2 separate regions of the Homo sapiens genome follow, and region 2 is reported to be linked to region 1. Evidence: microRNA targets listed by miRTarBase, many of them from high-throughput screens and not tested one by one. Region 1 holds a microRNA gene; the other region holds the end of a gene's coding sequence.
What was found. The annotated mature microRNA hsa-miR-8071 reads CGGUGGACUGGAGUGGGUGG and lies in region 1 at 1,726-1,745, shown strand. An mRNA with a match to its seed (bases 2 to 7 or 8) in the 3' UTR can be bound and repressed. Matches are read on the target gene's strand: a 7mer-m8 pairs with bases 2 to 8, a 7mer-A1 pairs with bases 2 to 7 and ends in A, and an 8mer does both.

Region 2: the mRNA of TEDDM1 is a reported target of hsa-miR-8071. Seed matches in the 3' UTR shown: 7mer-m8 at 326-332.

The regions. Positions count from the first base shown.
Region 1 is chr14:105,638,478-105,643,096 of GRCh38, forward strand. MIR8071-2 (microRNA 8071-2) reads left to right here and starts at 1,691; the gene lies at 1,691-1,755. It also overlaps IGH.
Region 2 is chr1:182,395,962-182,399,961 of GRCh38, reverse strand. It overlaps TEDDM1 (transmembrane epididymal protein 1), which reads left to right. Exons shown (of 1, transcript NM_172000.4): 1 at 1-1,845. The coding sequence ends at 298. Among named protein-coding and RNA genes, the nearest start is that of TEDDM1, 2.7 kb to the left of the region's middle.

The DNA.
Region 1 (4,619 bases):
GTCTCCAGGCTCTGGGAGGACAGAATCCTGACCTCAACAGTGGCCGGCACAGACACAGCGGGTCCCATCCCGGGGACGCTGACCAGCGCTGGGCAACTTTTCCCTTCCCCGACGACTGAGCCCCGAGCACCCTCCCTGCTCCCCCTACCACCTCCCTTTACAAGGCTGTGGCCTCTGCACAGATGAAGGTGAGTCCAGGTCATGCCGGACTCTTTCTTCTGTTGCAATAGTTATTTCTGTTGAAAATCCGTCCTTGCTACATGACCTAGTGCCCAGGGGGATGCTGAGACAGGATGAATGTGTTTTGCATGTGAGAAGAACATGAATTTTGGGGGCCAGAGTCTGGACTGTGATGGGTTAAATCGTGGCCCCTACAAATTCATATATTCAAGTCTTAATCCCTGGCCTCACAATGTGACTATTTGGAGATGGGGTCTTTACAGAGGTCATTAAGTTCATAGGGGGTCACTAATCTAATCCGATGTGTGTTCTTATAAGAAGAGAAGCTTAGGACACGGGCACACAGAGGGATGGCCATGTGAGGACCAGGGAGGAGACGGTGTCTACAAGCCAAGGAGAGAGGGCTTGAGAGAAACCAGCCCTGCCTGCATCCTGATCTCAGATTCCTGGTCTCTAGGCCTGGGAGGATCCATGTCTGCTGTGGGAGCCGCCCCGCTGTGGTCCTGAGCTGACTCACACAGATCTGACACCCACCTCTCGCTTCGGACCATGGTTGGTTCTGGAAGGCCCTCCCTGTGGCTCTGCCTGGGCAGCCTGAGCCAGCTCCCAGCCTCGACCCAGCTTTCCCTGGAGGCCCTGTCCCCCGCAGAGTGACCAGGGCAGGCAGCACCGTGCCCAGCAGGAGGAGAAACTGCATCCATGTAGAAAAGAGGAGAAACCCCGGGGGTCCATGTAGCGACAGGGGCCAGGGAGGGTCGCTCGGGCAATGCGTGTGGCTGCAGGAGGCGGGGGGCGTATGCAGGGAGCCCCCGAGGTGCAGCTGGACCAGCCTCCTCCTGACCGTGCTTCCCACCGGGGGCAGGAGGCGCGTGGACACAGGAAGGCGGCTCCCATCACGAAGTACAAGACTTAAAAAGGATATTTTATTGTCATCACAAAAGAAACATCAAAGACAATTAATGAGCTTTAGAAAATTTAAAAGAAGAAGAAAAGCTACCAAAGCTGAAATGGTGGCACCTCCTTCGAGTGAGCCCGGGAGTCCTCCCTGACAGCTGAGGCAGGCGCTGGCCGCACTCCCGCTCGAGTCTCCCTGTCTGCGGATTCTGCGTGACAGTCACGGAACGGCGTGATGGGGGCAGCAGAGCGTGGGGGCCTCTGTCCAGCACTCGTGGCCAGCAGCCCCGCTTTCACAAGAACACGGGCACCCTCTTTGTCGTCTTGCCTCTCCACCTGGTGCCCCCAGAGTGGCTGCTTGTTCCTGCTGCACGTGACCCGGGGCTGGACGCCAGCCTCTGTGATGAGTTCTGGCTGTGTCCACGCTCCTGGCTCTCCCGGTGTCCCTCCACCTCTCTCCCCGATGCTCCTGGGCCTCCTCTGTCCTCAGGCCCCACCAAGGCTGAGTCTTGCCCGCCTGGGACCTGGTCACCAGCCTTCTCTGGGAGGCCTGTCTGGGCAGATGCCCAGCCCTTCCTTGGGCTATCCTCACCCTTGCACCGTGGGGCTCCTGCAGCGGCCACATGGCCCAGGCTCTTCTCCGAGTGATCTCGGTGGACTGGAGTGGGTGGTAGGTGGCAGTGTCCTGGGCCTGGCCCCTTCTCTCCCCAGTGCGGACTCTGGGGCTGGCTGTCCCTGCGGGTCGAGTTCCACCCGAGAATCCAGCAGTGTGGGCAGGCAGCCAAGGGGTGGTGCTGGCACTGAGACTGTTCCCAGGAGCCAGAGAGCAGCGTTCTTTGCTTGAAATCAGAACAACCTCATTCCTCATGTCAGGAGTTCACGGGAGTGCCTGGAATGGAGGCTGGCTGGCTGCGGGCTGGGAGGAAGGCCGTCTGAGTGAGCCTTCGCAGCTCTCGGAAGCCTCCCCAACAGGGCCTGATGGTGCTGTGACTTCCCTACCTTGGCGACTGATGCTCCCACTCACCATCTGGAAACCACGCCTGTGTTCAGGAGGCTGGCGTGGACAGGGTTGGCTCCAGGGCGAGGTCCTGCCTGAGTGGGGGCCTGGGATGCTGGTCACTACCTCCTTTTGTGTGAGCACCTGGCGGGCCGGAGGGCAGGGACGTCCTGCTGAGGGGACACTTGGCCCCCAGCGCCCTGCATGCACCAAGCAGCGGAGGTCTGGGGTAGACCTGCTATGCACAGGGTCTGGAAGGGGGGCGTGTCAGGGTCAGAGGGCGACTGCGAGGCCAGAGAGCCATGGGGTTGAGGGCGGTGAGGTCGGGGGCAGGTGTGGCCTGGGTGATGGCTGAGCATGGCCCACGGCTCCTGTGTGGGGTCTGGGCGGCCCTGGACACCCCACAGAGGGTGGCCCTAGGCCCCCTGCCTGATCATGTTCCTGTAGTCGGGGACGATGGTCTGCTTCAGGTCCACCACTGAGGAGAAGATCCACTTCACCTGTAGGCAAGGCACAGCACAGGGGTGAGCGAGGCCACAGCCCTGCCCCCAAGGCCCGCCCACCCCTCAGGCCACCCAGGTGCCACGGCCTCACCACTGCCTGCTCTGAGGCTTGAACTTGGAGAACAGAGCCAGGTCACCAACAGTATGTGGACAGCACAGACGACAGCATCAGGGACAGGTGGGGACAGTGTGGGGGACAGTGTCAGGGACAGGTGGAGACAGTGGGGGAGAGTGTTGGGGACAGGTGAGGACAGCATGGAGGAAAGTGTGAGGGACAGGGGACAGCATGGGGACAGTGACAGGGAGAGGTGGGGACAGTGTGGAGGACAGCATCAGGGACAGGTGGGGACAGCATGGGGGAGAGTGTCAGGGACAGGTGGAGAGAGTGTGGGGGAGAGTGTTGGGGACAGGTGAGGACAGCTTGGAGGAAAGTGTTGGGACAGGTGGGGGCAGCATGGGCGACAGTGACAGGGAGAGGTGGGGACAGTGTGGAGGACAGTGTCGGGGATAGGGGACAGGAGGAAACTGTGGGGGACATTGTTGGGGATGGGGGGATAGCGTGGGGGACAGTGTTGGGCACAGGTCAAGACAGCGCGGAGGAGAGTGTCCGGGACAGGTGGGGACAGCATGGGGGACAGTGTCAGGGACATGTGGGGACAGCATGGGGACAGTGTGTGACAGCATGGGGGACAATGTCAAGGACAGCTGGGGACAACGTGCGGCCAACCTTGAAGAAGGTGATGGTGGCACTGTAGCACACGCTTAGCAGGAAGAGTGTGATGAAGATGGTGATGGTGGTCCACAGCCCGTCCAGCTCCCCGTCCTGCGCCTCCGCACAGCTCTCCTCCAGTTGCAGCTCTGGACAGGAAGTGGGTGGTCAATACTGTGTCCTGCTGGGCTCGGGCCTCTGGGGGTGATTCCCTCTGTGGCAGGACCCAGGATGTAGGGCCCGGCCGGGATGGGCCAACAGTGTCCTGAGGTCAGCTCCCCACAGCTGCCTGCCCTGGGCACCAGCTTTGGCCCCGGGACTCAGCCAGACACCCAGCCCTAGATAGCGACCTGGCCCTCAGCAGGACCCGCTCCCCATCTCCTGTGTCCCTCCCTGAGGCCCAGAGGGCAGGAGGATGGTGAAGCCCACACCTCATGTGACCTCAGCTGCAGGGAAGGGCGGCATTGGGAAGTGGGCCAGTGCCAGGGACGCGACGTGGCGTGTGTTCCCCTGTGTGTGGGGGCCTGTGTGTGTGTGGCGGCTGCAGGGGCACCTTGTGAGAGGAGGGCTGGGTTTGTCTGAGCAGGTCAGCATGTGGAGAAGCTGCCGAGCGGCTCGTGGGCCTTGAGGTGCCGCGTGGGGCTCGTGGGGGCCTGTGTCTGAGGAGTGTTCACGTGTGCGAGGACCTTGCTCTGGTCTGGGTGCTGTGCGGTTCGCCCGGGTGAGGCTCCGTGTGTGAGGCGTGCACGTGTGTGTGTGGTGGCCGTGTGGCCGGCCAACCTCAGCGCGGGGTTTGTTGAACGGGTCTGGGCTGAGTGTGTGTGTGGGCATCTGGACCAGTCCCTCCACAGGGCCCGAGAGTGCATGTCCCCGGAGTCGGTTGTGTCCCCATGCGGGTGCGAGGCTGGGCAGGGCAGCCAGGGGTTAGTGCCGTGGGGGTAGATGGGTGAGGGAGGGCCTGTCCCTACGCACATGGACTAGGCATGCCCCCGAGTGGGCATGGAGGTCGGAGGACAGGGCGCTCACAGGACAGGACAGTCTCCTACAGAGGCAGGGGCTGTGTGTCTGTCCCCAGGGGCTCCTAGGGCTTCCCGTGGCCCAGCCCAGGGCAGCTGCTGCTGGAGGGAGGGCCACGCTGGCAAATCCCCCACCCTGCCGAGGGCAGCCCCTGGCTGAGCCCCACCCTAGGCGGCCCAGGCACACCTGCACAGCCTGGGCCAGTGTGGGGACAGTGGAACCCGCTCTGCCTCCCTCATGCCACTCAGGCCTCAGACTCGGCCTGACCCACGGAAAGAACCATCACAGTCTCGCAGGGGCCCAGGGCAGCGCTGGGTGC
Region 2 (4,000 bases), not on the chromosome of region 1:
CTTTATTCTATACAGACCCGTCTCTGGCTACCCATGGCAGGACGATGACATCAGTGACATCATGTTTGTCACCACCTTCTTCTGCTGGCATGTGATGATCAATGCCTCATTCCTGTTGGGAATCTATGGCTTCTCTTCCTTTTGGTATCATTGTTTCAGACCCAGCTTGAAGCTGACTGGGCCCAAAGAAGCTCCATATTATGCAAGCACTCCAGGACCCCTCTACAAGTTGCTACAGGAAGTGGAGCAGTCAGAGAAAGAGGACCAGGCTCTCCTCCTTCCAAAGAGCTCCCCCTGAGACAGGGCCTACAGTGGCTGGCACATCGTCCACCTCATCTTCCTCCTGTTGGCTCCTCAGCCACGAGCATGGTACCCTCCTTGGTAAAGGTAATGGCCTTGAAGGCTAGCAGTTGGTCCCGTCTGCTGGTTCATTTTCTTTTCTTCTCTTTTCTTTTTTTTTTTTTTTGAGACAGAGTCTCGCTCTGTTGCCCAGCCTGGAGTGCAATGGCACAATCTCAGCTCAGTGCAACCTCCGCCTCCCGAGTTCAAGCGATTCTCCTGCCTCAGCCTCCCGAGTAGCTGCAATTACAGGAGCCTGCCACCATGCCCGTGCTGGTGCATTTTCTGTCCCTGAGCCTCTAATTACTGAGAAGATAAGGGGAGAGGGATTGAGAAAGAGACGCTGATGGGATTTGCGGGAGGGAGGGAAAAGGACGAGGAGAACACTTCTTCTTAGTGTGCAAGAAAAGCCACTGGGGGAAGAGAATGCAACAAAAGGAAGAGCTGTGAAGGGAGGAGAACAGAGTCTAGCAGTTATGCTGTCATTAGCGTCATCAGGCACAAGGGATTGCCTTTTACCTGAGGGAATAAAGACTTCTCACAACTCAAAACTGGACCCATTCAAATCTCATCTTGATAAAGAAAAGTGGGTACTTTACGTGCTCACCAAAGTGGTGCCACCATGTGGAAATAGCATGATAGAATTTATAATTAATTCATACAGGCTGAAATTATGCTCGCTTTGCCTCCTTCTCTCTCCGCAGCTTTCAAGAATTGGCTTCATTTCAAACTTTACATATAAAGTGAGACTTTTTAAATACTTAATAACATTTCAAATTTCCATAATTTAAATTTGTATAGAATTCAACTGCTATAGCATTTTTATAGCATTCAAATGCTTGGTACTTCCCTGACTTCTCATTTTATTACTCTTATTCTAGCCCAAACTTTCCTTTTCACCATGACCACCCTTGCACATGCAATTTAGCAGATACCATTCTTGGGTCTTTGCAAATTTCTTTTCCTTGCAAATCACAGCCAGTCATCCTACAGTCACATATTTACCATGTTATTCGATTCCCAGAATAAACCTACATCCACCCCCACACCGCACCAAGTATCCCCAAGGTGGCCTTCTCCAGAACTCTTACTGATTCCCTTGTTTTGGAACTCTTGGGCACTTACATTAAATCTGCTTTGTTAGTTTGCTCATACAGGTGACCCACTTTCTTTTATACTGCTGCTGAAATCATTTTCTTTCAGAAGGTTCTTCCTCACCCACTAAAGTACAGGCTCCTAAAGGGAAAAGACTTTGCCTTATCCAAGTTACCAAATTTCCTATGTATACTCCAGCTATGGATCATGGTTATGTTTAATAAAGCCTTCTTTGCTTCCAGAGTCTTCCCTAATCCTGTTTCTTCTAAATGTATTGCTGGACAGGTTGGAGGTTTTGTGAATCTCTCTGGGTGACAACAACAGTCCTGAACACTGAGTCACTGCCTTAGTAATGCACCCACTCTCTTCCTTGTTTTGGGGTATAATAAAATCCAGTAACTTGTTTCTGAAGTTGACTCTGTTATTGTTTTTAATCCTCACAAATGTTTCTATAAGGAGTCTCTAGAAAACTGAGACTCCAGCAGGTTGACTTGCCCAAGTCTCACAGTTGGTATGAGGCAACACAGGAATTTAAGTGCAGGTGTGTCTGACGCAAGTGTGACTGTGTCCTCTGGGCCACAGTGACTTTGCTAATGGCAATGGAGAAACAAGTTATCTCAAAATGAAAAAAATGAAATTGTGAAAGAAAGAAGAAAGACGGCTGGGCACTGTGGCTCACGCCTATAATCCCAGCACTTTGCGAGGCCAAGGCGGGCGGATCCCTTGAGGTCAGGAGTTCGAGACCAGCTTGGTCAACATGGTGAAACCCTGTCTCTACTAAATATACAAAAATTAGCTAGGTGTGGTGGCCCACACCTATAATCCCAGATACTTGGGAGGCTAAGGCAGGAGAATCACTTGAACCTGGGAGGCGGAGGTTGCAGTGAGCTGAGATTGCACTACTGCACCCTAGCCTGGGTGACAGAGTGAGACTATGTCTTAAAAAAAAAAGAAAAAAGAAAAGAAGGAAGGAAAGAAAGAAAGAAAGAAAGAAAGAAAGAAAGAAAGAAAGAAAGAAAGAAAGAAAGAAAAGAAAACAAGCCAGAAAGCCCAGGTAAAGCAAACAGCACAGTGTAAACACCCTAGACCTCCCTTAGGAGTGGGTTTATGCAACACTTTCTGTCCCCTACCCTGACCCCCATCTCCCCCGGGGGGTGAGAATCTGGCAGACTCTCAACTTCTGGCTGGGTCTTACATTTCTGGGCTCAGATCCAAAGCAAGAGCTGGGGATAAGACTTGTTTTTGACCAAGGCTTCTAAAGTTTGCCATTTCCCCTTTACTCTTGGTTCCTAGCCTTTTTTCAATTACTTTTCTTTGGGAGCCTTCCTTTTCTCTTTACCTCTCTTACACATTAATGGGAGGTGATGAAAAAGCACAAACACTTAGCTGCCTGTTTCCTGTAATGAGGCTTAATTCTATAACAATAAGCCTCTGGTAATCAAGTGATACCCCCCAACATAATAGCTTTCAAATATTCAGTGTAGGCAATAAGCCTGCATGTTATTAACTTACTAGATTTAAGATGTAACAGAAAGGTCCTCCCACTAAAGGCTACTCAAGAAAAAACTCAAAGCACTCAAGCTTTGGGGGAGTTTGTCATTCTCACAAAATTCCACAAGAGGGCACTAGGTTCACACCACCCCGGCCAAGCTTCTGATTCTCCAACCCCAGTAAACAAGTCTCCGGAGAACGGGTTTAAAAGAAGTGGAAGAGGAGAACGGACAGGAAAAATCCAGAAGCAGACTAAGAATTGCCCAAGCATCCAGAAAACATACCCTAGGGCTGTTTGTTTCCTGTTAAAATTTGGCGAGTCAATGTGAAATAAACAGGGATCCAAATTAACTAATGAGGTGGGAGGGGAGGGAGGAAGGGCTGTGGATCCCATTGAGGATTTCTTTGGGAATGGTACCAACTAAAGCACATACTCTGATCTAAATAATTTTTTGATCAGAATGCTAAATTCTCTAAATTTTTTAATTAGCTTCAATAATGTTCCAATCAATCTACAGAACAACGATCTGTACAGTGTAAATTGAGAATAAAGGACAAAATGTATCTAAAAAAACCCGATTCACAAAACAATGAAACTGGAGGCAGATTATCAGATGTGAAAAATGATCTCCAAAGAGTCCTTCAAAGAGAATCTTTCCTATGGTGTTGTTTTTTTCTGCTAATCTAGTTATTCACAAAGAAAATATATATTGAGTGTCTGCTATACAGAAGTCACTGGGTAAGCATACCCAGGATTGAGAGGTAAATGGTTGCTCCCTGTCCTCTGCACCTCCCTCAGTGAGGACTGTAGGAATTTCAGTATTTTAGAGATGGTGGCCCCGGAACAGATCACCCACAGACCAAAGCGACTAAAGGAAAGGGAACAGAAAAAGAACAGCACCTTGAAAGCTCATTAAGCTCTAAAATACTAACCAAACATGACTTCATCAAGTTACTATGAGTTATCTAAGCCTCAGTTCCTCATCTTTAAGATAGAATGATGTGAAGATCTAATTCTAGAATTGTATGGCTTTAATTTTCTCAATAGGACATTTTCCCCAGGTTGTTAACTAAG